3 separate regions of the Homo sapiens genome follow, and all the other regions are linked to region 1. Evidence: fine-mapped expression QTL. A gene starts in region 1. Each other region holds a variant in brackets. All regions are shown on one strand. Distances are between the middles of the regions.

Region 1 (8,179 bases):
GAGGGGAGACACTGCAGGGCCGAGGGAAAGGGCTCAGCCTTGGTGCCTGAGGACCACAGAGGGGAGACACTGCAAGGGTAGAAGAGACCTCAGGGATCAGGGCTGGAGCAGGAGAGGAGTGAATGACAGTAGGGAGGATCAGCAGGAGTCCATGTCCAGTTGACATCTGAAATGGAGTGACATGAGCTTAGGAGAACACGATGTGTACCCATGGGTGGGCCCCTGCCAGGCACTGTGGGTGTGGGGTTGCCTTAGACACTTAGGTCCTGCTTGAGAACAGACAGGTGAAAAGACGGAGCGTTATGTGCTCTCTCTCCTGGGAGAAATCCCCTCCCGGTCCTTCTCTTTCTTGGAGGTGGCAGCAGAAAGTTGCTTGGTGCACATGGCGCAGCACCTGCCTTAGGCAACCTTTTGGGTTGGGGCTGGAGGAGGGGAGTCCCTGTGACCTCACCAGGCTTTGTGGCCACATTGAGCCTATCCAGTACCAGCCTGCTCCTCGCGCCCACCTCGTGGGTGAGGACCATGACGAGGTTCCACTTCCTCCTTTCTTCACTCTGTTCACTCTGAAATCCCTCAGGCATTAAAGTGAGAAAAGACACATTGGCTTGGGGTCAGCACCTGACTCCGTTCGCTCTGGAAATTGGTTGGTTTCGCCTACTCACTCACATTCGTTTCTCCTTCTGGTAACAACCCCTCAATTCCCCTTTGAGAAAATCACCCCCTTTCTTTCCTTTTTTTCTTTAGAAAATGTTTAATTGTAGTAAAATACACAAAACATGAAAGCGATTATCTTTTTTTTTTTTTTTTTGAGACAGAATTTTGCTCTTGTGGCTCAGGCTGGAGTGCAATGGCACAATCATCTCGGCTCACTGCAACCTCCGCCTCCAAGGTTCAAGCGACTCTCCTGCCTCAGCCTCCTGAGTAGCTGGGATTACAGGGACTCACCACCACACCCAGCTAATTTTTGTATTTTTAGTAGTGACGGGGTTTCACCATTTTGGCCAGGCTGGTCTCAAACTCCTGACCTCCTGATCCACCCGCCTCGGCCTCCCAAAGTGCTGGGATTACAGGGATGAGCCACCGCGCCCGGCCGAAAGTGACCATCTTAACCATTTTTAGGTGTACAATTCAGTAGTGTTAAGTACCCTTACGCGGCTGTGCAACCAACCCCCTTCCTTTCTTCAAAAGTCTGTGTGTTCGGGTCTGATCCCAGCTCCTGGTTCCAGGGCGGGGCCTATGAGTAAGGCTGGGCCCGTGAGAGCACTCCATTTTCCTAACAGGCTCATCATAAAAGCCAAGCCCATGAGAATCAATCCACGGGCAGTTGCTAGAACTCATGGAAAGGAGACTTGCTCTTTCTGTTTCAGATGCCAAACCAGTAGGAATATAGTTGGAGCTGCAGGCAGCCATCTTTGCCACCAGCTCCGGGACTTGCCTGGTAAAGAGGCCCACAGAGAGGAAGGCAAAGCTGAGGAAAGGAGACAGATGGATTCCTGGCAATGCCATTTGAGCATCTGGACTCAGCCATGCCTGAAACTATTGCCCATACACTTTTCAGTTATTTGAAACAATAAATCCTTTTTTTTTTTCTTTTTTGCCGAAGCATATTTACGTTGGTTTTTTGTCATTTGCTACCAAACCAATCTATCTAAGAATCTGATTCTTGAACTCGGGTTTATTGTTGCACGTGAGGCTTATAAGAGCTAAGATCCAAGCACTGATGTCCTTTTTCCTTCACGTCTCTGAGCTTTCAGAAATCATCACCTAACCTAGCCCTGAGCCCCATCACAGAATGACCACATGACATTTGCTTCATGATGAAGTTGAGAAAAATGGTTTGGGAGGAAAGTGAGTATAATAAAGAAGTTCCACCAAAGGCAAAAACATGACAAATGTTTGTCACTGATGTGCGATGACACATCAACAAGCATCAGTGAGCACAGACATCTGTAAGTGTGTCATACACACAGCATGTCCTAAGAAAGACAGTGTTTTCAGTCGTGGTTGAAAGTCCACCCTCTCCTGACTTCTGAGGCTCTAAAATGGATCTGCGCCTGATGTGAGGGACAGTCATTGTCCATACGAGAGTCTGGTGCACACTGTGCAGTGTGGACGCACACCGCAGCCAGAATGCAGGTTGTCATCAGTACTAGCATCTCTCTTCCAAAAGAGTCAAGACTGGAGACAGACAGGTCAATGTACTCTTAATGCACACCCCAGAACAAAGATACTAGGCGTCTGCTCTCTGTTTTGGAGTCTACCAGGTATGTCTCATCATCAAAGAGCAGGAACTCTTGGATGATGAATTTAAAAACTATAAGAGAATGTGTTTTCATGAAGTTCCCATGAGGGCACTCATTACATGAAAGCTGGGGGCGGTGACTCACGCCCACACTCCCAGCACTTTGGGAGGCCAAGGCAGGAGGATTGCTTGAGCCCAGGAGTTTGAGACCAGCCTGGGCAACACAGCAAGATCCTGTGTCTACAAAAAAATTTTAAAAATTAGCTGGCATGGTGGTGTGCACCTGTTGTCCTAGCTCCTCAGGTGACTGAAGCAGGAGCATTATTTGAGCCCAAGAGTTTGAGGCTGCAGTGATCTGTGATCGTGCCACAGAACTCCAGTCTGGGCAACAGAGCAAGAGCCTGTCTCTAAAAATAAATAAATAAATATATATATTTTTAAAAAGTGCCTTCTTTGTGAAGCTGAGTTTGTTTTGTTTTGTTTTGTTTTGTTTTGTTTTTTTAACCTAAAGGCAGGAGTTAAGGTTTTTTCCTGGGCCCATGATTCTATAATCTCCTTTAGGGACTCTCGGGCACACACACACAAACCTAAGAGGTGTGTGAGGAGAATAAATACGTATTGTAAATGTAAAGCCCAGCAAACCCTCAGCATCCACAGAACAGTCTGTGTGTCACAGCCGGCAGGTGAGGAGCACACAGGAAAGCATGGAGGGCCACAGACGCTGAATGTTTCTAGCACCCAGACTCCTAACGGGCTGTGCCCATCATGAAGAAGCCTCCGGTGGGGTCCCCTCAGCCCCTAGGGAAGCACAGCAGCCCCGACCAGCCCTGTCCGGAGAGGCTCCATTCCTAGGACCCCCGATCCGGCCTCCTCCAGTCGCAGCCACCAACTGGCACGTGTCCACCTTCTCTCAGAGGCAGCACAAAGCCACACCAGTGGCTCCTTACTTCTTTCCGTCTAGCTCCTGGGTACGTGGGGAAGTACGCTGACCCCTTCAGAAGCCGGCCCACATGCAGGGGCCACGAGGGCTACGGAAGAGCGTCCGAGTCTTCGTCGCCCTCCTGTTAGTCTCCCTCTGATAAGCCATGGATCTAAGTCTAGGCTAAGATCCAAGTCACAGAGCCCCAGTGAATCTCCCAAGGACAAACGTTCTGTGGGAGAAGGGGCTTTGCACATTTTCACAGCTGTATCCCCAGGGCCTTGGACAGGCCTGGCACGTGGACGGCATCTGTGATAGGTGTTGCTGTTAACCAGTCTTAGTGTCTTCATCTATGAGATAGTGGTTCTCAATCCACGTTGTGGGACAGGAAAGGAGAGCCCAGTGCTCAGCATGCTGAGTGTGCACAGAGCGGTCTCATCATATCCAGTCGCCCAGCCCAGGGAGGGAGCATCTCTGTTCCCATTTTGCAGATGAGAAAACTGAGGCTCAGAAACCTTAACTGTCTGCTCACATGCTCCCTGCAGAGCCAGGACTCAAACCCACGTCTGAATCTGAAGCCCTCGTGGTTTCCACTACGTCGCACCACCTTTCTCAGCTCTAAGTGCTCCTGGAGGGAGGTATTTCCACCTCCACCCAGAGCTGCAGCCCCCACGCCCAGCACAAAAGCGGCGGCGCTTGGACGCAGCAAGCCACAGCTTCCTCGTGAGCCCTGAGCTGCGGGCCGCGGACGCTGACCTCCTACCACCCAACCTCGCTCGAGCTCGCCCACCTGGAGAAGGGCCCCGGCTGTGCCCCGGGGACGCCCCCACGCGGGAAATACTCACGGCTCCCGCAGGCGCAGGCGGCTGCGCGGGGCGCATCGTCTCCGGGGGCTCCGGCCTCCTCGAGAGCAGCCGAACGCGGGGCTGGGCTACCTCCTTGCTGTGGGGCATCAGATTATTTTAGCACCAGCGGAAGGAACGGACGGAAACTGAAGTCACATGGAGAGCGGGCTGCTCGGCGACTCAGCACAGGCTCACTCAGACCCGGCCTCTTAGAGGGAAGCGCGGCGCGGGCGCGGGGGTGGGGCGGGCCGGGGGAGCGGGGCCCGAACACCTGCCGGCCTAGCGGCCGAGCAGCGGGGATGTTTAGACGATCTTCCAGCAATGCGACCGAGGCTCCCCCGGCTTTCTTGCGTTGGTGCCTTGGCAGGGCTGGGGGCGGCCAGCTAGGGGCCCCTTGCCTATGAGGTCTGCTGACCCAGAAACTTTGCTACGAGCTTCCAGCCAAGGACCAAGCTGAGGCCGACTTTGGGAACGGCAGCACCGTGGTAAAGAGGCACAGCCTGTCGTCTGGCAGGGTCAGCCGCTCAGCCAGTCTGTCTTCTTATCCACTCAGCCGGTCCTTGTGGATCATCTCCTTTACGGACCCTGTGTTAGAAAGAAGGGGAATTGCTTTGTCGAGGACTGTCAGAGAGTGCCAAGAGCTTCTTGATCTTAGACTGCGCGGATGGGTTTTTTTGTACCTGATGTGTACAAAGTTCCCTGCCAGCTCTTGCCAAGAATTCAAAGGAGTAAGAATAATTGATCATATAGCCATCATTGAAGCAGCGCCAGACACTGTGCTAAGAGCTTCATATGCATTACCCCAGCGCTCCTGTTCTCGAGGAACTACTGTCGTCTAGAGAAGGTGAAATATTTACAGTGCCTGCTGCGTGTGGAGTGACGTGGACCACCATAGTCGGGGGCTCAGACAAGGGGCCTCCAGTTCTGATCTCTCTCACTCCCCTTCAAATCTGAAACGTTGAACTGTCCTGCAGGATTGGGTCACCTCTCTTATAGCCTGTGATTTGGGATTGTGTGTAGCATTGTCCATCCTAAGAGAACAGGAGCCAAGTCCTTTTCACTCCAAACATCTGGCACATTGTCTCTGCTTTCTACAATATTCACTCATGGCCGGGCACAGAGGCTCAGGCTTGTAATCCTAGCATTTTGGCAGACCAAGGCAGGTGGACCGCCTGAGTGCAAGACCAGCCTGGGCAACATACTGAGACTCCATATGTACAAAAAATTTAAAACTTAGCCAGACCTGGTGGCACGCACCTGTAGTCCCAGCTATTTGGGAGGCTGAGGTGGGAGGATCACCTGAGCACAGGGAGGTTGAGGCTGCAGTGAGCCAAGATCACGCCATTGCACTTCAGCCTGTGTGATAGAGTGTGACTCCGTCTTTAAAAAAATAAAAATAATTTTAAAAATAAAATATTATCTCATAATGGTAATAACAATCACACCAATGAAAAAGCTAAATAAAGATCAAATTGTTGCAAACCCAGGTGCTTGATTCAGGCCTCTTTCTCTCTTGTATGCACATTCTCTACTTCATGTCTTTTGTGTCTACCAATCAGTTGGTAACTCCCCAATTTTAATTTCTAGCTCCAACATTCTCTTCCACGAGAGAAGATCCAGACTTGCATTTTTAACTGTCTACTGGTCAATCAACTGCTACATGTCCCAGAGTCACCATAACATGATGTATCCCAAACTCAACTCTCTCTCTTTTTTTTTGAGACAGTCTTGCTCTGTCACCCAGGCTGGAGCAGTGGCGCAATCTCAGCTCACTGCAACCTCTGCCTCCCAGGTTCAAGTGATTCTCCTGCCTCAACCTCCCAAGTAGCTGGAATTACAGGCGCCCACCACCACGCCCAGCTAATTTTTGTGTTTTTAGTAGAGATGGGATTTCACCATGTTGGCCAGGGTGGTCTCAAACTCCTGACCTCAGGTGATCCGCCCACCTCAGTCTCAGAGTCCTGGGATTACAGGCATGAGCCACTGTGCCTGGCCCCAAACTCAACTCTTATCCTTTGTCCCAGCAGTTTCTCTCCTGTATGGCTGTCACACTTTACGGTATGTTTCAGCCCAGGCAGTCCAGCCCTCACAGACTTCATCCTTCATATCTAATTGACCCCCAATTCCTGCTGATTCTAACTCAGAAATGTTTCTGGAATCCAACCTGCTTTTCATCCTTAGGCTGTTGCCCTGGGTCTAGACCTCATCAGCTCATGTCTGGACCACTTTCATAGCCTCCTGAAACTCGCTCCCTGCCCCTAATCTCATCCCTGTCCAATGTCAACTCCACCTAGCTGCCACGGGCATCTTTCTAAAATGTGTATTGGGTCATCTCACTCTCTGCTTAAAGCCCTTTTACAGGGTTCAGCAGGTTCAAGGGTTCCTCATGAATGCCTAAAGACTGGCAGGTGGGATCCAGGTACCCCATTCCCTCCACATCCCAAGAATTCTACTTTGATATGTTTTATACATTGGGAGATTCTCTATAGAATTTCTTTTGAGAAAGGCAGCTGCTACCCCTAAAAAAAAAATCTAGTAAACCAATGGTCTTTTTTTTTTCTTTTTAATTCTTTTTCTTTCTTTTTTTTTTTTTTTTTTTTTTTTTTTGAGACAGGGTCTCACTCTGTTGCCCAGGCTGGAGTTCAGTGACGCAATCAAGGCTCACTGCAGCCTCGACCTTTGGGATCAGGTGATCCTCCTACCTCAGCCTCCTCAGTAGCTGGGACCACAGGCACACACCACCATGTCTTTTGTATTTTTGGTAGAGACAGGGGTCTCACCATGTTGTCCAGGCTGATCTCAAACTCCTGGGCTCAAGCAATCTGCCTACCTTGGCCTCCCAAAGTGCTGGAATTACAGGTGTGAGCCACTGCACCCGGCCCCAGTGCTCTTGATGGATGTGTAGAGACAAGCCAGTTGGTTGGCAACACCAGCAGCCCTCCCCTAGGCTAGCAGCACGCTGCCTCAGTGGGTGGAAGCCTGGACGTCCAGCTGAAACCAATGCAGATTTCAGCTGAAAGGAGAACGTGCCAGCACGGCTGGAAGCCCGACTGCACAGCTCAGCATCCTCCAACTTGGTTGGGCTCCCCCCTCACTATGCTTTTCGAGGCAGAGGAGACCAGGGTGCTTCCTCTCAGATGCAACCCTGGTGCATCCAGGCCTGGTTGCCCTGACCAAGCTCACCCCTCCACAGGATCATGAGAATTTCTGGGGGGCCATGTGCCTCTTGCTTTGAGCCTGCTCCACCTATTGGGGTGTTTGCTGTATTCCACTCAACAGGAATAAAGCAAGTCTAGTGTCAAGCAGCGCAGCAGCGTCTCTGATCCGAAGTGAAAGCAAGAACCCAGGCGGCTCCCGGCTGGAGGAGAAAGTCCATTCGGCCTGAGCTGCCTCCAGCCTCTCTTCACGACTACCGCCCATGCTTCATGATCACTGCACACATGGCCTGCAGGTGGGTTCACCCAGCCCGGGCTGATCACGATTTTCCCAAACACAGAACAAACGCTCCCCACTCTCTACTCTCTCTGGCAGAGGGTTCCCTTGTTTGGAATGGCCTCTTCTGCCTACCCCAACCCTCCCCATCCCAAAGGCATGGCTTGGACTCCCCTCCTCCATGAAGCCTTCCCCACTGCAATTGCCACCTTGTCCTGTGAACACATGGTGCCAGCGTTCCCATAATCCACCGACCTCATGACATCTCTTGTGTTGTGATTTAATTTTTTGGACTTCTGCCTTTTTTCCACAACTACACTACAGACTTTTTTTTTCTTTTGAGACAGAGTTTCACTCCCGTTGCCCAGGCTGGAGTGCAATGGTGCCATCTCGGCTCACTGCAACCTCCGCCTCCTGGGTTCAAGCAATTCTCCTGCCTCAGCCTCCCAAGTAGCTGAGATTACAGGCGCCCGCCACCACTTCCAGCTAATTTTTTGTATTTTTAGTAGAGACGGGGTTTCACCATGTTGGCCAGGCTGGTCTTGAACTCCTGACCTCAGGTGATCCGCCCGCTTCAGCCTCCCAAAGTGCTGGGATTACAGGCGTGAGCCACCATGCCTGGCCCACTACAAACTTTTGGAGGCAGGGTCATGTGTTATTCCAAAAAATATACTATCTTATGCACATAAAGGGGCTTGGTGACTATTTGCTCAAAGAAAGGAGGAGGAGGCCGGGCGCAGT
Region 2 (8,179 bases), 22 kb before region 1:
TGGGAAGTAGATCTGGAGGGGCAAATGGAAGTTATCTGGCACATTAAATAAATAAAAAGTGATATGACCAGTGATACAAACCAAGGATTAGAGTTTGTCCAATTGCTTGCAACTGGGGTCGTTTAAAAAAAGAAATCAGCAGGCGCCGTGGCTCAGCCTGTCATCCCAGCACTGTGGGAGGCCGAGGCGGGCGGATCACAAGGTCAGGAGTTCGAGGCCGGCCTGGCCAACATGGTGAAACCCCATCTCTACTAAAAATACAAAAATTAGCTGGGCGTGGTGGCAGGCACCTGTCATCCCAGCTACTCAGGAGGCTGAGGCAGGAGAATCGCTTGAACCCGGGAGGCGGAGTTTGCAGTGAGCCGAGATTGCGCCATTGCACTCCAGCCTGGGTGACAGAGCAAGACTCCATCTCAAAAAAAGAAAGAACGGAAAAAAATCAATTGATCCCTAACTTAAATGCCTCCAGAAAAACCTTCAGCTTTTGTTTTATGACTGGATTTCCAAAATCTAAGTTACTGTTACTCATGTTCACAGACCAGTCTCTGACATGATTTATCTGTGATTCTGAATATCCTCCTGTGTGAATATTCTGGCATGTGGCAACCGGAAATGGCCCCCTACTGCCCACCCACTGAGGAAGAACCACGTGGTGCCCCACCTGGCTGAATGGGAGCTCTTAGGCAGACACCATTCTGGCCCCACCGAAGAACTCTGGTAACAGGCTTTGTGGGTCCTTCCCTCGCCAGTAGGTTCTCCTATGGGTCCAGGTCGGAGTGGGAGAAGCAGGGAAAGGGGACAGAATTTGCTGGGGGAACCATAGCTGAGCACTGAAGGCAGAAAGCACCTTCCCTATGTAACTTTCCGCATACTGAGAGAAACCTAGAAAATCATCCTTTTTTTTTTGAGACGGAATTTTGTCTTGTCGACCAGGCTGGACTACAGTGGCGCCATCTCTGCTCACTGCAACCTCCGCCTCCCAGGTTCAAGCGATTCTCCTGCCTCAGCCTCCCGAGTAGCTGGGACTACAGGCACACGCCACCACGCCCAGCTAATTTTTGTATTTTTAGTAGAGATGGGGTTTCACCATATTGGCCAGGCGGGTCTCGAACTCCTGACCTCAGGTGATCCACCCACCTCAGCTTCCCAAAGTGCTGGGATTATAGGCATGAGCCACCGCACCCGGCAGGAAATCACCTTTGGATCCTTGTGATGGAAAACACTAGGAAGGAAAGCCCACAGCCTTCTAAAGTCACAGTCACAGGCAGGGCTGGGGCTCAATTTGTCATCCTCCCGGGCTGGACCCCAAGAACAGAAAGAGTGGGTGGTCAGCTACATGGTGTGACTTGAGGGGCTTCAAAAGTCCTGCTGAACCCCAAACTATCTCCCCGACTGCCCTGAGTTTCTGTCTGAAGTTTCCATCATTTGAGTCATTTCTTTGTGCTAAGAATTTGCTTCCAGAAGTTGCCTGCTAAAATGTACACGCTGCCTGGGCGCGGTGGCTCACGCCTGTAATCCCAACACTTTGGGAGGCCACAGTGGGCGGATCACCCTGAGGCCAGGAGTTCAAGACCAGCCTGGCCAACATGGTGAAACCGTGTCTCTACTAAAAATACAAAAATTAGCTGGGTGTGGTGGCGGGCGCCTGTAGTCCCAGCTATTCAGGAGGCTGAGGCAGGAGAATCGCTTGAACCTGGGAGGCAGAGGTTGCAGTGAGCAGAGATCACGCCACTGCACTCCAGCCTGGGCAACAAAGCGAGACTCAGGCTAATAAATAAATAAATAAATAAATAAATAAATAAATAAATAAAATGTACATGCAGCCATAAAAGGATACGGGACTTACTTTTCATTCATTTTGTTTGCTCAACGTCTCACTTCCTTTCTTAGGTTTCAAGAACTCTGCCCCCTCATAAGAATTTGGAGGACACGGAGCCTATCTTCTGCCATAGACACCTCGCCAAGGGGTACAGCATTGCCGTGCCAGTCCTTCTTGTACTCAGGGCAGGGGCACATGACCACGGTCAGGAGCTGGCGATGCAGCAGAATTTGGGGAGCATTTATTTCAGCAGAAGGTGGCAGGGGTGGCTGCAGCCATGCTCCCACAGTTACTGCTCATGGCATGGTTTGGGCTGAGGTCAGGAGTTCGAGACCAGCTGGTCCCAATTGCTACACAGCATCTTCTGTTCCTGCCCATTTTCCAAGCCTGTTCCTCAGCCTTCCCGAGAGTCCAGAGCTTACTAATATTCTCTTACTAAATGCGTAAGCTACTTAAATCAGACAGAACCGTCTTCAGTTGCATGAGACTAAGAACACTGATGGATACCAGAGGTGACGCATTAACTCAAGAGAAGCCGTCAGTGCACCAGCCACAGATAGATGCATTTGTCTAATTAGCTAGTGTTCACATTAGGAAACAGCAGGACCCCAGAGAAGGGTTTTGTTGATGGGGAGAGGAAATCAGGAGAGTCTGGTCTGATGTTGCGTTGGCTGATGGGACTTGCCCGGAAGGCTTCAAGGCAACCTGAGAGACATCCACGACACTAGGCTGGGCGCAGTGCAGGAGGGAACGGTGGGGTCATAGCAAGGGCAAAGCCCAACAGGACCTGCCGCTAACGCTACTGAATGTGGGGCCTGAGATGGCAAAGCCTAACAGGACCTGCCGCTAACGCTACTGAATGTGGGGCCTGAGATGGCCTTGTTCAAACCTCTGTAGAGCATCCAAGGGAAGTTTCTGCTGTGTCAGAGTAAGACCACTGATTTTATCTCTTTGATTTGCCTAAATATTTCTGCTGACAGTTAGTCTGCATGGTAATAGCTATCAGTTTGTGGGATTTCTAGCCTCTCTCCCTCCCCATCCCTCCCCCATTGCGTTTAATTCCTTTATGATTTAGTAAGCAGGGATTAAAAACTTTGAGGACAGTGTAAATTCTAAACTACCAGAGGACGGGGGCTGTGTCCTTGTTATCTTTTCTCTCAGAGAGGAGCACAGACATTGTTCGTTAGTCATTGAACAGAGGGAGAAGGGAAGCTAAGAATCTAGTGAATACAGATACTGAACATCTGCTATGAAGTTGTAAGCAATTTTTTGTGAAGAGTTAGGAGGGTTCACAAGTGAGCAGAATTCATTCCTTTCTGCATTCCTCTTTACTTCCCTTCAGAACGAGGACTGTCTCTGGCAGTCGGCTTACTGACTGGATAAACTCGGGGCCAGTTAT[T/C]ATTCTCTTGGTTTCTCCATGGAAGAGTCATGTCTGTCTGCCAGAGACTCCGGGTATGAAGCCAGGGCACCTGGAGAGGGCCCAGCTAGAGGTCCATTATTTTATTTATTTGTTTATTTTTTGAGACGGGGTCTTGCTCCATCGCCCAGGCTGGGGTGCAGTGGTGTGATCTCGGTTCACTGCAACCTCCGCCTCCTGGGTTCAAGCAATTCTCCTGTCTCAGCCTCCCAAGTAGCTGGGATTACAGGCGCCCGCCACCACACCCGGCTAATTTCTGTATTTTTAGTAGAGACGGGGTTTCACCATGTTCGCCAAGCTGGTCTCGAACTCCTGACCTCAGGTGACCCGCCTCAGCCTCCCAAAGTGCTAGGATCACAGGACCGTTCTGACGGCGGTGGCCAGTCACGCAGCAGGTGAGAGGCCTCATCTTATGATCTTATGTCAGACCCTCCAGCTGTGCTTTGAAATGCTTTGTTGTCGTCGTCCTGCTATGAAATCCTTGTGTCGTCGTCCTGCTATGAAATCCTTGTCCCTGTTGAGTCCCCAGGGCACTGACTCACCATCTCTAGCACCTGCTCTTGGAGTTCTTTTTCCAGTAGGTTGCATTGAATTGCTACCCTCGGCTCCATGGATGTCACCAAGGGGAGGACACTACAAAATAATCCAAGGGAAACCAAGGAACAATAAAAAAAAACACAAGCTGCATTTAATTTAAAAAATATTTATGAGACACGTTGCCTTTTATTTCTGAAAAAGTCACTTAATAAATATTTTACCAAGATAATGAGGATGAATTATAATGATGGAAAAAGAACTTGGGCGGTGGTGGGGGCGGGGGTGGGGTGGGCGATGAGGAATGGAAACATATTAAATTTTAATTGAAACTTCAATTCGTCAGACTTGGCCTCTGCATCACATCTTGAAAGCTGGCAGAGAAAGTGTCCTGTTGTGTGCGGACCGAATTTCGAGTCTTGGCACACAGCCAGGTCAGTAAACGGAGGACCAGTGGCAGCGGCTCTTGATGACCTGAAGCAGAGGCTTCTTAAAAGTGAGGACGATGACAGTGCAGGCCACCAGCAGGGTGAGGCAGCTGGGGAGGATGAGCACGAGGTAGAGCAGGCCCAGGTCCAGCCGCTCCCACTTGCAGTCCCGAGGCACACCTCCGGGCAGCTCCGTCACGCGGATGATCTTGGAGGAGAGGTTGCAGGTGACCATGGCCCAGTCGGCCACCGTCTGCCCATGCTGCAGGGCCCCCCAGCCATCCACCCCACAGCAGTCATATGGATTCTGACTGAGGTAGATGGTCCGCAGACCTCTCGAGAGCTGCTCAGACACAGCCTTCTGGGGAAGGGCTGTGAGCGAGTTTCTACGGAGATCCAGGGTCTCCAGGGCCAGGCTGCCCCCAAACCTTGGGAAGGTGGTCAAGCAATTCCCCGACAGATCTAAGTCCCTGAGATTCCCAAACCCAGAGAAGTCCAACGCCATAAAGCTGGAGTGGAGGCCCATGTTCCTGAGAGACAGGACCTGTAACATGGGGGCAACATCCTGGAGTGGGGCGAGGCTCCCATTCAGAACCCCCCAGTTGCTTGAGAGGTCTAAGTAGGTCAGGGAGGTCCCTTGGAATGGGCAGTCTGGCAATGCCCCCAGGCCACAGCCCTCCAGAGACAGGCTCCTTAAAGATGCCATATTCCTGAAATCCACACAGCTAGGGGGGCCCACCCGGTCCGAGGCAGCTGGCAGGGGACAAAGTGAGATCTGATTGTGGCTCATGTCAAGTGTAGTGATGTTCCTAGCATTGGCGAAGAGGCCAGGGGGGACGCCCAGGAGCTGGTTGGAGCTCAGGTTGAACAAGCGCAGGCTGCCCAGGCAGCTGGCCAGCCCCGGAGCCAGGTGCAGCTCCGACAGCTGGTTGTGGCTCAGGTCCAGCTCGGTGAGCGCTCCGGGGGGCTCGTGCTCCCGAATGTGAAGCGTCATCAGGCAATTCTGGTGGAGGTTCAGGTGGGAGAGGGAAGGCATTTTCCTCAGGAAGCCGTCTGGCAGGTACTGGAACTGGTTCTGGCTCATGTCCAGGAAGCGGAGATCTGCGAGGTCGCTGGAGGAGAATTCTTCCCAGAGGCTGACGGTGGTGATGTTGGTCACGTTGCCGTCCACGAGGAGGAACTGGGCCACCATCTCCCTCGGCGACGAGGTGTTGTACAGGTCCCGGTAGAAGCCCATGTTGTTGTCGCGCAGCAGGAGGGTCCGCAACTTGCTGTACTGGGGCAGCAGCGGGAAGAACAGCAGCTGGTTGTGAGACAGGTCCAGCGTCTCCAGCTCGAAGGCAGCCTCTCCCCCGGTCGCGAGGAACCACTCCAGGACGTTGTAGCTGACGTTGAGGACCCGCAGCCGCGTGAGCCCGAAGTCCACGATGCAGGGGAGGTTGTTGAAGGCCAGGTTGAGGTGCCTCAGCTCAGCCAGGCCGTCGAAAGCGCCGCCCTCGATCTCGAAGATGTAGTTCCTCTGCAGATCCAGCTCCCGGAGACGCTCCAGGCCCTCGAAGACGGAGTCGTCCAGCCGCATGATGGTGTTCCCCGCCAGGGACACGGACCGCAGCGAGGAGAGGTTCTGGAGCATGAGGGCTGCCATGTCCTCCGTCAGGGCGTTTCCTGACAAGTCCAGCCTCCGCAGGCCCGGCAGGGCGTGGAGGGCGGCTGCCGTCTCTTCGTAGTTCTCTGAGAGGCAGTTGTCCCCCAGGACCAGGCTGCGCAGGTGACCTTGCTCCTGGAAGGCGCCGCGGCTGATGCGCTCCAGGTGGCAGCTGTGCAGGCTGAGGCTCTCCAGGAGAGGGTAAGGCTGGAGGGAGTGATTCCACAGGGTCTTGAGAGGGTTGGCATCCAGGGTGAGCATCCGGGCGTGGGGCGGGAGGCTGCTGGGCACCGAAGCGAGGCTCTGCCCTCGGCAGTCAGCGGCTCCACCCACCTGCGGCCAAAACCACACCGGTCAGCAGCGAGGAGGCCCAGAGGCAAGCATTTATGCATAGAAACTTAGTTCACTTATCAGACTGTCCCTGCAACCGCCGGGGATGGCTCTAGAGATGTTCATTTTAAAAATAGGATAGACAAGGCCGGGCACGGTGGTTCATGCCTGTAATCCCAGCACTTTGGGAGGCCGAGGCAGGTGGATCACTTGAGGTCAGGAGTTCAAAACCAGCCTGGCCAACATGGTGAGGTCCTGTCTCTACAGGAAATACAAAAAACTAGCCGGGTGTGGTGGTGGACACCTGTAATCCCAGCTACTCCGGAGGCTGAGGCAGAGAATTGCTTGAACCCAGGAGGCAGAGATTGCAGTGAGCCGAGACTGCACCACTGCACCACTGCACTCCAGCCTGGGCGACAGAGCAAGACTCCATCTCAAAAAAAAAAAAAAAAAAAAAAGGACTTGAGAGCTTTCACCATCCTGAATTGTACAGGGAAGTAAAGTGGGTCTGGAGGGGAGAAGTGAAGAGCCAGTGGCTGTGCCGGGACTGGAGCCCAGGGCTCTGAATGCCCAGTTCAGTGCTTTTCCTAAACAGGGCTCTACTCTGATCATGCAGAATAAGGAGGCGGGAGGGACGAGGCCACCCTGGTCGCACTGCAGAAAGCACACGTGCAGGATACTTTAATTCACCCCACGCTTTGCAAAATTGGCAAAAACAACCATCAGCCATAGGATGTTATTTAGGTGTCTAGGACAAAAATGGTTTTTTTGTTTTTTGTTTTTTTGAGATGAAGTCTTACCCTGTCACCCAGGCTGGAGTGCAATGGTGTGATCTCAGCTCACTGCAATCTCTGCCTCCTGGGTTCGAGCAATTCTCCTGTTTCAGCCTCCCGAGTAGCTGGGATTACAGGCACATGCCACCACGCCCAGCTAACTTTTTTTGTATTTTTAGTAGAGACGGGGTTTCACCATGTTGACCAGGCTGGTCTCGAACTCCTGACTTCAGGTGATCTGCCTGCCTCGGCCTCCCAAAAGTGCTGGGATTACAGGCGTGAGCCACCGTGCCCGGCCAGAAAGAAGTTTTAAGTGATAAGATAGAGGAGCAATGGCATTCGTTTGCACAAGTTTATCAGTAATACAAGGGCAGTGGTTGCCTACAATTGTGGGTTCAATCCCAGAGGGCAAGTGCAGCACGGCAACAGAAGAGGAAAATCCCGAGAGAGAGGTTAGAAGAAGCACAGGTTTGGAGGACAGACTCAATCTGAATCTCGGCTCTACCACCACTAGCAGTGGAATTTCTTGGCCCCTCGGGTTCTTTATCTGATAATTAAAATAAAACCTTCCAATAATTAAACATTGATACTGTATTGACATATGGAAACCTCAACTCTTCTGTCACCTCCGCCTCTCTCTCAGAGAAACACCAGTCACCTTCTGTTCCATGTCTTTCTGGATCTTTCGTAAGATATTACCTACCTTTGTCTAAAAAACAAAAATAAGACCATACTGTGCAAACTGTTCAGTAACCTATTTTTCTCCCCCTGTCAATAAAGTATGACGGACTTATTGCCTTGGCAGTACAAATAAATGTGATCATAATCTTTTTAGGAAGCATATGCATTCATCTCATGAATAGCACAGTGGCTGAGAGCAAGAGTTCCAGGGCCAATGCTTCGTGGCTCTGCTTTTGATCAAATGGGTGACCTTTGGATGGTTACGGAACCGAAAGAGACCTCCATTACCCTGCCTGTAAAACCGAAATTATACTCGTCATTTTCGCATAGCGTTTTTTTTCAGGATCAAGTGTGACTGTTGAGGTGAAACACATTTACTGTGCTTAATAAATGTGAGCTATAATTATTAGGATGATCTAATTAATCATCTCCTATTGTTGAGCATTTGGGTTTCTCTAATTTCCAGACGAACGTTAGAAAGGATTTGCCAAGTTCTTTCCACATCCCCCTTCCCTCTTTGGTATTTTGATTGGGATTGCATTATAATTACAA
Region 3 (8,179 bases), 22 kb after region 1:
GGCTGAACACTCACAATCAAAGGTAATTTTCCAAATGTGGACATAGAATGTGCGTTGCGTGGCCAGGCACGGTGGCTCACGCCTGTAATCCCAGCACTTTGGGAGGCCAAGGCGGGTAAATCACCTGAGGTCAAGAGTTTGAGACCAACCTGGCCAATATGGCAAAACCCCATCTCTACTAAAAACACAAAAATTAGCCTGGCATGGTGGCGAGTGCCTGTAATCCCAGCTACTAGGGAGGCTGAGGCAGGAGAATCGCTTGAACCCGGGAGGCGGAGGTTGCAGTGAGCGGCTGAGATTGAGCCACTGCACTCCAGCCTGGGCAACAGAGCAAAACTCTGTCTCAAAAAAAAAAAAGAACGTGCGTTATGATATATTATGTCATATCATAGGAAACAGTTGCCATCTGCAAGTTAGGCAATTTGAGGAGAGTTTAATAAAGGGACTAGTACCCAGTGTGGTCACGGCAAAGCGGGAGCCCAGGACTTGCCCCAAAGGGCTGTTACTTCCCTAGGTCTGGGGGAGGCAACAATGATCAGAGCCCAAAAGGTGAGAGTCCACAGGCGCCTGGAGAGGCTACTGGAGAAGCCCTGTGACCCCTGATCTAGGGAAGCAGCTCCCCGAGGAAGCCCTGCAGGAGGAAACCAGGGGAGCAAACACGCGACCACTCTCCCCTCCCTGACGGGGATCCCTGTTTAGGGACCCCAGCTAGAGGACAAAGGACACAGGTCTGCTGAGCAGAGAGCAGGGTGGGAGAGGGTAGACAGTGGATCTGGAAGCTCAGACGGAATACATCCGGCCCGTTGTGATTCTATGCAACAGTGGGATGAATGTTACCTGTTGGTTTTGTTTGTTTGTTTTGTTTTGTGTTGAGACAGATCCTTGCTGTGTCGCCCAGGCTGGAGTTCAGTGGTGTGATCTTGGCTCACTGCAACCTCCGCCTCCCGGATTCAAGTGATTCTCCTGCCTCAGCCTCCCGAGTAGCTGGGATTACAGGCGTGCACCACCACCCCCCGCTAATTTTTTTTTTTCTATTTTTTAAGTAGAGATGGGGTTTCACCATGTTGGCTCAGGCTGGTCTTGATCTCCTGACCTCGAGTGATCTGCCCACCTCGACCTCCTAAAGTGCTGGGATTACAGGCGTGAGCCACTGCATCTGGCCACCTGTTTTTTTTTGTTTGTTTGTTTTTTTAAACGTTGTCACCTGTTTTACTTCTATTATACTTTTCTAATATGTTATGTGCAGTAGCATCTTTGCACTGAATGTTCTTAAAGAGCCCTTAATGACTTATTCTTTGCCTTGCAATGTGTCATACTAGAAATAGAACTTAAATTATTATTTCCCGAATGTGTGACCAGGCATTTACTTACACCAAAACCTAGTCACTTTTCTTACTGTTAACATAGCTTCACACAATTTCCCCACAGAACTATTCCCATCAGTTTGACTTTTTATTACCTAAAATAACTTAATATTAGTCTCACTATTTATAGCCTATTATTTTTATACTCTCCTCCAGATAATGTATACAAGCAACTTAAAGTACAATCTGGACTAATGAGGACTCTTTTAATCACTAGTGATAGAAACCCAACTCAAACTGGTGTAGCAGAGGAATTGATCGGTTCATGTTACTAAAAAGTCTGATTTAAAGCAAGACTGGATCCACGCGCTCAAACAATGCTTTCAGGAATCTGTGTCTCCAACTCTCAGCCCTGCTCTCCCCTGACTCTACCCGGGTGGCATCAAGGGTGCGTTCTGGCAGTTTCGGGCCCATGGCCTGCTAGTCTAGCAATACCAGGGGGAAAGAGGCCTCTTTCAAAACAGTGCAGCAAAAGTCCCAGGACGGAACCCCCTTGTGTGACCTGGGGTCAAGTGCCTCTTCCGCAATCAGTCACTGTGGTTGGCGGGTGGGATGTGCCTATTTTTCTGGACTGACTCATATGCCGATTCCTGAAGCTCCACCCAAACGACATGGGCTCCTGTTGATGGAGTAGGCCCTAAAGAAAAGCAGGTGCTTTCATCAGAAGAGGGGTAGAGGTTGTACAGAGAAAAATCATGCTCATCTTCTTCCCAAGGTTAGTACTGATTCCTTAGAAGAGTTACTGTTTATACTTCATCCACAGAAGACCGTTGGTCTCCATCCCTCATTCCTGGTTTCTAAGCAACTCCCCGTTTACCAGAAAACAGCACTTGCAGTCCTAGAATATGTGTAGTTGCTTTTAGAAAGTAAAAAGGTTTTTGAAAGACTTTTCATTTTGTTCTGTACCAAGAAAAATTCTTCTGCCTTGGGATCCTGTTGATCGGTGACCTTACCCCCAACCCTGTGCTCTCTGAAACATGTGCTGTGTCCACTCAGGGTTAAATGGATTAAGGGCGGTGCAAGATGTGCTTTGTTAAACAGATGCTTGAAGGCAGCATGCTCGTTAAGAGTCATCACCACTCCCTAATCTCAAGTACCCAGGGACACAAACACTGCGGAAGGCCCCAGGGTCCTCTGCCTAGGAAAACCAGAGACCTTTGTTCACTTGTTTATTTGCTGACCTTCCCTCCACTATTGTCCTATGACCCTGCCAAATCCCCCTCTGCGAGAAACACCCAAGAATGATCAATAAAAAAATAAAATAAAATAAAATAATTACCAAAAAAAAAAAGGTTTTTGAAAATGTAAATAGATTACCTATAACAAACACACACGTTTCCCCATAACAGAGTTTCAATAGAATAAAATTCCCTCTTAATAGCCTGGTTGTCTTTTCCTGTAATTGCTTGTGTTTCCTGAGGAGTTCATTACAAAGACCAGCTGACTTGTCGAGTTGCATCGCAGTGCAGAGAGCGCCGGAAGGAGAGAGAAGCTCACACTTTAGATCCAGCTCTGTTGCTCACAAAGGGCCTTGTTTGTCCATGAGTAAAATGAGGTTGGACAAGAATTCCAAAGTTGATTCCAGCAATAAGAACTTAGAGTTCTATTCTGAAATATGTATCATCAAAGAGATAGGAGGGCAGGCATACCACTCATTTAGGACAGAGAGGTTAAGGTCCTCAGCCTGCAGCCATGGGCCACAGATGGGAGGAAGAGTTGCAACCCCAAATTTCACAGGCTTAAAGAAGTTTATGTGCATTAAAGGACGCAATCAACAGAGGGATAAGACAAACCATGAGACGGGAGAAAACATTTGTGAATCACACATCTGATAAGGAGTTAATATCCAGAATATATAAAGAACTTTTATAACTCAACAACAACAAAAACAACCTCATTTAAAAATGGGCAAAGGGCTTAAGTAGACAATTCTTCAAAAAAGATAAACAAATGACTAACAAACCTACGAAAAGATGCTCAACAGCACTAATCATTAGGAAAATGCAAATCAAAATCTTAATGAGATATCACCTTATACCTATGAGGATGGCTGCTATAAAACACACACACAAGGCTTGGCGCAGTGGCTCATGCCTGTAACCCCAGCACTTTGGGAGGCCAAGGCGGGTGGATCACGAGGTCAAGAGATGGAGACCATCCTGGCCAACATGGTGAAACCCCGTCTCTGCTAAAAATACAAAAATTAGCCGGGCGTGGTGGCTGGCACCTGTAATCCCAGCTACTCAGGAGGCTGAGGCAGGAGGATCACTTGAACCCGGGAGGCGGAGGTTGCAGTGAGCCAAGATCACACCACTGCACTCCAGCCTGGTGATAAAGGGAGACTCCGTCTCAAAAAAAAAAAAAACCAAAACAAACAAAAACAAAACAAAAACAAAAACAAAAAAACATACACACAAACCTGAAAGCAACAAGTGTTAGAAAAGATGTAGAGAACCTGGAAGTCCTGTGCACTACTGGTGGGAATATAAAATGGTGCTGCCAGTATAGAAAACAGTGTGATAGCTCCCTAAAACCTTATAATAAGAATTACCACAGAACCCAGCAATTCTGCTTATGGGAATATACCCACAAGCATTGAAAGCATCCAGGGGCTGTGGAGAGGGAGAAATAAATGTTTAGTGTATGGAGAGTTCATTCTGAAAGATGAAACACTCCTGGAGATTGAACAACAGTGGGGATACACTTAACACTGTTGAACTGTACTGTTACAAATGGTTAAGATGGTAATTTTTTGTTACATGTATTTTACCACGATTTTTTTTTTTTTTTGAGACAGAGTTTCACTCTTATCGCCCAGGCTGCAGTGCAATGGCGCGATCTCGGCTCACTGCAACCTCCGCCTCCCGGGTTCAAGCAATTCTCCTGCTTCGGCCTCCTGAGTAGCTGGGATTACAGGTGCCCACCACCACACCCGGCTAATTTTTGTTTTTAGTAGAGATGGGGGTTTTACGATATTGGCCAGGCTGGTCTCGAACTCCTGACCTCGAGCAATCTGCCCGCCTCGGCCTCCCAAATTGCTGGGATTACAGGCGCGAGCCACTATGCCTGTCCTACCACAATTTTTAAAAGAACTTTAAAGCTGGAAGGGAACTTAGAGATCTTTTAGTCCAAACCCTTTGTTTTACAGAGAGGAAAACTGAGGCCCTAAGTGTTACATTATTTACACAAGAACAGAACACAGTAGCAGAGACGGAAGCTCCATCTCTCAGCGCTGCTGTGATATCTTAATTTTACATGTCAGCTTAGCTGGGCCACAATGCCGAGATATGTGGTGGGGTTTTTTAATAGAAAAAAAATGAACCCATTGACTTTTCAGAGCAGTATGTGGTTAAACATTATTCCGGATGTCTTTGTGAGGATATTTTTGGATAAGATTAACATTTAAATCAGTGGACTTTAAGCAAAGCAGATTACCCTCCATAATGCGAGTGGGCCTCATCCAGTCTGCTGAAGGCCTGAAACAAAAAGACTGCTCCCTGGAGGAAGAGGAAGTTCTCCAGCCTGCTAGCTCACGCTGCAGATTTTGGACTAGCCCACCTCCATAATCTATGTGAACCAATTCCTTAAAAA[T/C]ATCTCTTTCTCTGTATATATGTCCTTGAGAATCCTAACATATCTGCCTTTTCTTTTTCTGACCAATTGTGACTTTTAAATAAACATCACTTGGCTGAGTGCGGTGACTCACGCCTGTAATTCCAGCACTTTGGGAGGCCGAGGCAGGCAGATCACTTGAGGTTGGGAGTTCGAGACCAGCCTGACCAACATGGAGAAACCCCATCTCTACTAAAAATCCAAAAAAAAAAAAAAAAAAAAAAATTAGCCAGGCGTGGTGGTGCATGCCTGTCATCCCAGCTACTTGGGAGGCTTAGGCAGGAGAATTGCTTGAACCAAGGAGGCGGAGGTTGCAGTGAGCCGAGATTGCGCCACTGCACTCCAGCCCGGGCAACAAGAGCAAAACTCCGTCTCAAAAAAAATAAATAAAATAAAATAAACATCACCTGACATTTGTGTGATGCAACAGCAACCATGCAGACTTCTCTTTGGTCACAAGAGAGGAAAAGAAACACAATAAAGGAGTCACAATAAAGGGGTCACAATCAAGGGGTCACAATCAGAGGGTCACACTGTTAGCACTAATGCAGGGGTTAATATTAGCATCACTGATGGGAGAACAACCAGAATATGTCTTCCACCATGGTGCGCACGAAGCACCCAGCAGCACTTAGGATATATCCTTGCTAAAAGTGTCTAACTTGAATTAAATCAAATGTTAACATCTCATTGATCATTTATAGGAAATAAAGGACACAGAAGAACCAGCTAGAACACTGTAACTGCAGCCATAAAAATGAACGAAATGTGGCCGGGCGCGGTGGCTCACGTCTGTAATCCCAGCACTTTAGGAGCCTGAGGCAGGTGGACCACTTGAGGCCAGCAGTGTGAGACCAGCCTGGCCAACATGGCGAAACCCCGTCTCACCTGAAAATACAAAAATTAGCCGGGCATGGTGGCGCGCACCTGTAATCCCAGCTACTCAGGAGGCTGAGGCAGGAGAATCGCTTGAACCAGGGAGACGGAGGTTGCAGTGAGTTGAGATCGCATCACTTCACTTCAGTCTAGGTGGCAGCGTAAGACTCTGTCTCAAAAAAAAAAAAAAAATGAAATTATGTCCTTTGCAGCAACATAGGTGGAGCTGGAGGCCATTATCCTAGGTGAACTAACTCAGAAACAGAAACTCCAATACTGCATGTTCTTACTTCTAAGTGGGAACTAAACAATGGGCACACATGGACATGAAGATGGAATGGACTCCAGAAGGGGGGAGGGTGGGAGGGATGAGGGGCAAAAAATTACCTATTAGGTACAATGTGCACTATTGGGTGATGGGTACACCAGAAGCCCAGTCCTCACCATAATGCGATATAACCCATGTGGCCAGGTGCGGTGGCCCACACCTGGAATCCCAGCACTCTGGGAGGCCAAGGTGGGAGGATCACTTGAGGTCAGTAGTTCAAGACCAGCCTGACCAACATGATGAAACCCTGACTTTACTAAAAAAATACAAAAATTAGCCAGGCGTGGTGGCGGGTGCCTGTAGTCCCAGCTACTTAGGAGGCTGAGGCAGGAGAATCACTTGAACCCAGGAGGCAGAGGTTCCAGTGAGCTGAGATCGTGCTACTGCACTCCACCCTGGGCAACAGAGCAAGACTCTGTCTCAAAAAAAAGAAAAAAAACAAAAACAAACAAACAAACAAAAAACCATGTAACAAACATGCGCATATACCCCATCAGTCTAAAAAAAAAAATGTAGGTCGGCATTTGAGTCAGAATTGGTATGTTGTATGATGTGGATAGTGATTGAGGATTTTCTTTTTTCCAATATAACTAGAATAAATTTCAGGTTATTCTGAAAATAAATAAATAAATAAATAAATAAATAAATAAATAAACATGAAAAAGCTCTAGGCTGGGCACGGTGGCTCACGCCTGTAATCCCAGCACTCTGGGAGGCCAAGGTGGGCAGATCACTAGAGGTCAGGAGTCTGAGACCAGCCTGACCAACATGGTGAAACCCCATCTCTACTAAAAATACGAAAATTAGCCAGGTGTGATGGCGGGCTCCTGTAATCCCAGCTACTCGGGAGGCTGAGGCAGGAGAACTGCTTGAACCCAGGAGGCAGAGGTTGCAGTGAGCCGAGATTGTGCCATTGCACTCCAGCCTGGGCAACAGAGCAAGACTCCATCTCAAAAAAAAAAAAGATAAAAGAAAAAGCTAAATTCCCATTGCTCCCAAGCTGAACAAATTCATGAATTTGAAATACTACCATGTGTATGTTTATTACCTCTGTTACTGGGACTCTATAGACTGAATACTTCTTGAAAAAAATTATTCTTGGGCACTATGGCTCACACCTGTAATCCCAGCACTTTGGGAGGCCAAGGCAGGCGGATCATAAGGTCAGGAGTTTGAGACCAGCCTGCCCAATATGGTGAATCCCCGTCCCTACTAAAAATACGAAAATTAGCTGGATGTGGTAGCATGCGCCTGTAGTCCCAGCTACTTGGGAAGCTGAGGCAGGAGAAACATTTAAGCCTGGGAGGTAGAGGTTGCAGTGAGCCAAGATTGCACCACAGCACTCCAGCCTGGGTGACAGAGCCAGACTCCATCTCAAAAAAAAAAAAAAAAAAAATTTTTTTTTTTTGAGATGGAGTCTTGTAAAATTTATCCTTTTTTTTTTAATCTTATTTTTTTGAGATGGAGTCTTGCTCTGTTGCCCAGGTTGGAGTGTAGTGGCATGATCTCGGCTCATTGCCACCTCTGCCTTCTGGGCTCAAGCAATTCTCCTGCCTCAGCCTCCCAAGTAGCTGGGATTATAGGCGCCGGCTACCACACCCAGCTAATTTTTGTATTTTTAGTAGAGATGGGGTTTGACCATGTTGGCCAGGCTGGTCTCGAACTCCTGACCTTAGGTGCTCCGCCCACCTCAGCCTCCCAAAGTGCTGGGATTACAGACATGAGCCACCGCACCCGGCCAAAAAAATTATTCTTGAATTTAACTGTCTCAAGTAGAAGGTTCATGGCGTCTGAGTGGTACCACTGTCATGTGATGTGTAATGTGAACTATACTGATGATATAATAATGGCGTAATGAACTATGTTGATGATATATGATATGTATTTTGTTTGGTTTTTCTTTTTTCTTTCTTTCTTTTTTAGACGGTTTGGTTCTGTGGCGCAGGCTAGAGTGCAGTGGCATGATCTCGGCTTGCTGAAACCACTGCCTCCTGGACTCAAA

What was found. PIP is the estimated chance that this variant, and not a neighbour inherited with it, causes the effect.
Region 2: its variant is the best candidate, but not a certain one, in a credible set for the expression of NRROS in whole blood (INTERVAL, PIP 0.82).
Region 3: its variant is the best candidate, but not a certain one, in a credible set for the expression of NRROS in whole blood (INTERVAL, PIP 0.76).

The regions. Positions count from the first base shown.
Region 1 is chr3:196,635,703-196,643,881 of GRCh38, reverse strand. It overlaps NRROS (negative regulator of reactive oxygen species), which reads right to left and starts at 4,188. Exons shown (of 3, transcript NM_198565.3): 1 at 4,007-4,188. RefSeq lists enhancers at 1-209, 340-389, 1,834-1,893, 1,914-2,263, 3,432-3,551 and silencers at 4,002-4,101, 4,122-4,551.
Region 2 is chr3:196,657,749-196,665,927 of GRCh38, reverse strand. NRROS (negative regulator of reactive oxygen species) reads right to left here. Exons shown (of 3, transcript NM_198565.3): 3 at 3,924-6,176. The coding sequence ends at 4,206. Among named protein-coding and RNA genes, the nearest start is that of NRROS, 22 kb to the right of the region's middle. RefSeq lists enhancers at 1-501, 5,679-6,254. The variant T/C (reference allele first, on the strand shown) is at 3,219.
Region 3 is chr3:196,614,068-196,622,246 of GRCh38, reverse strand. No RefSeq gene overlaps it. Among named protein-coding and RNA genes, the nearest start is that of LINC01063, 14 kb to the left of the region's middle. RefSeq lists an enhancer at 1,964-2,033. The variant T/C (reference allele first, on the strand shown) is at 4,956.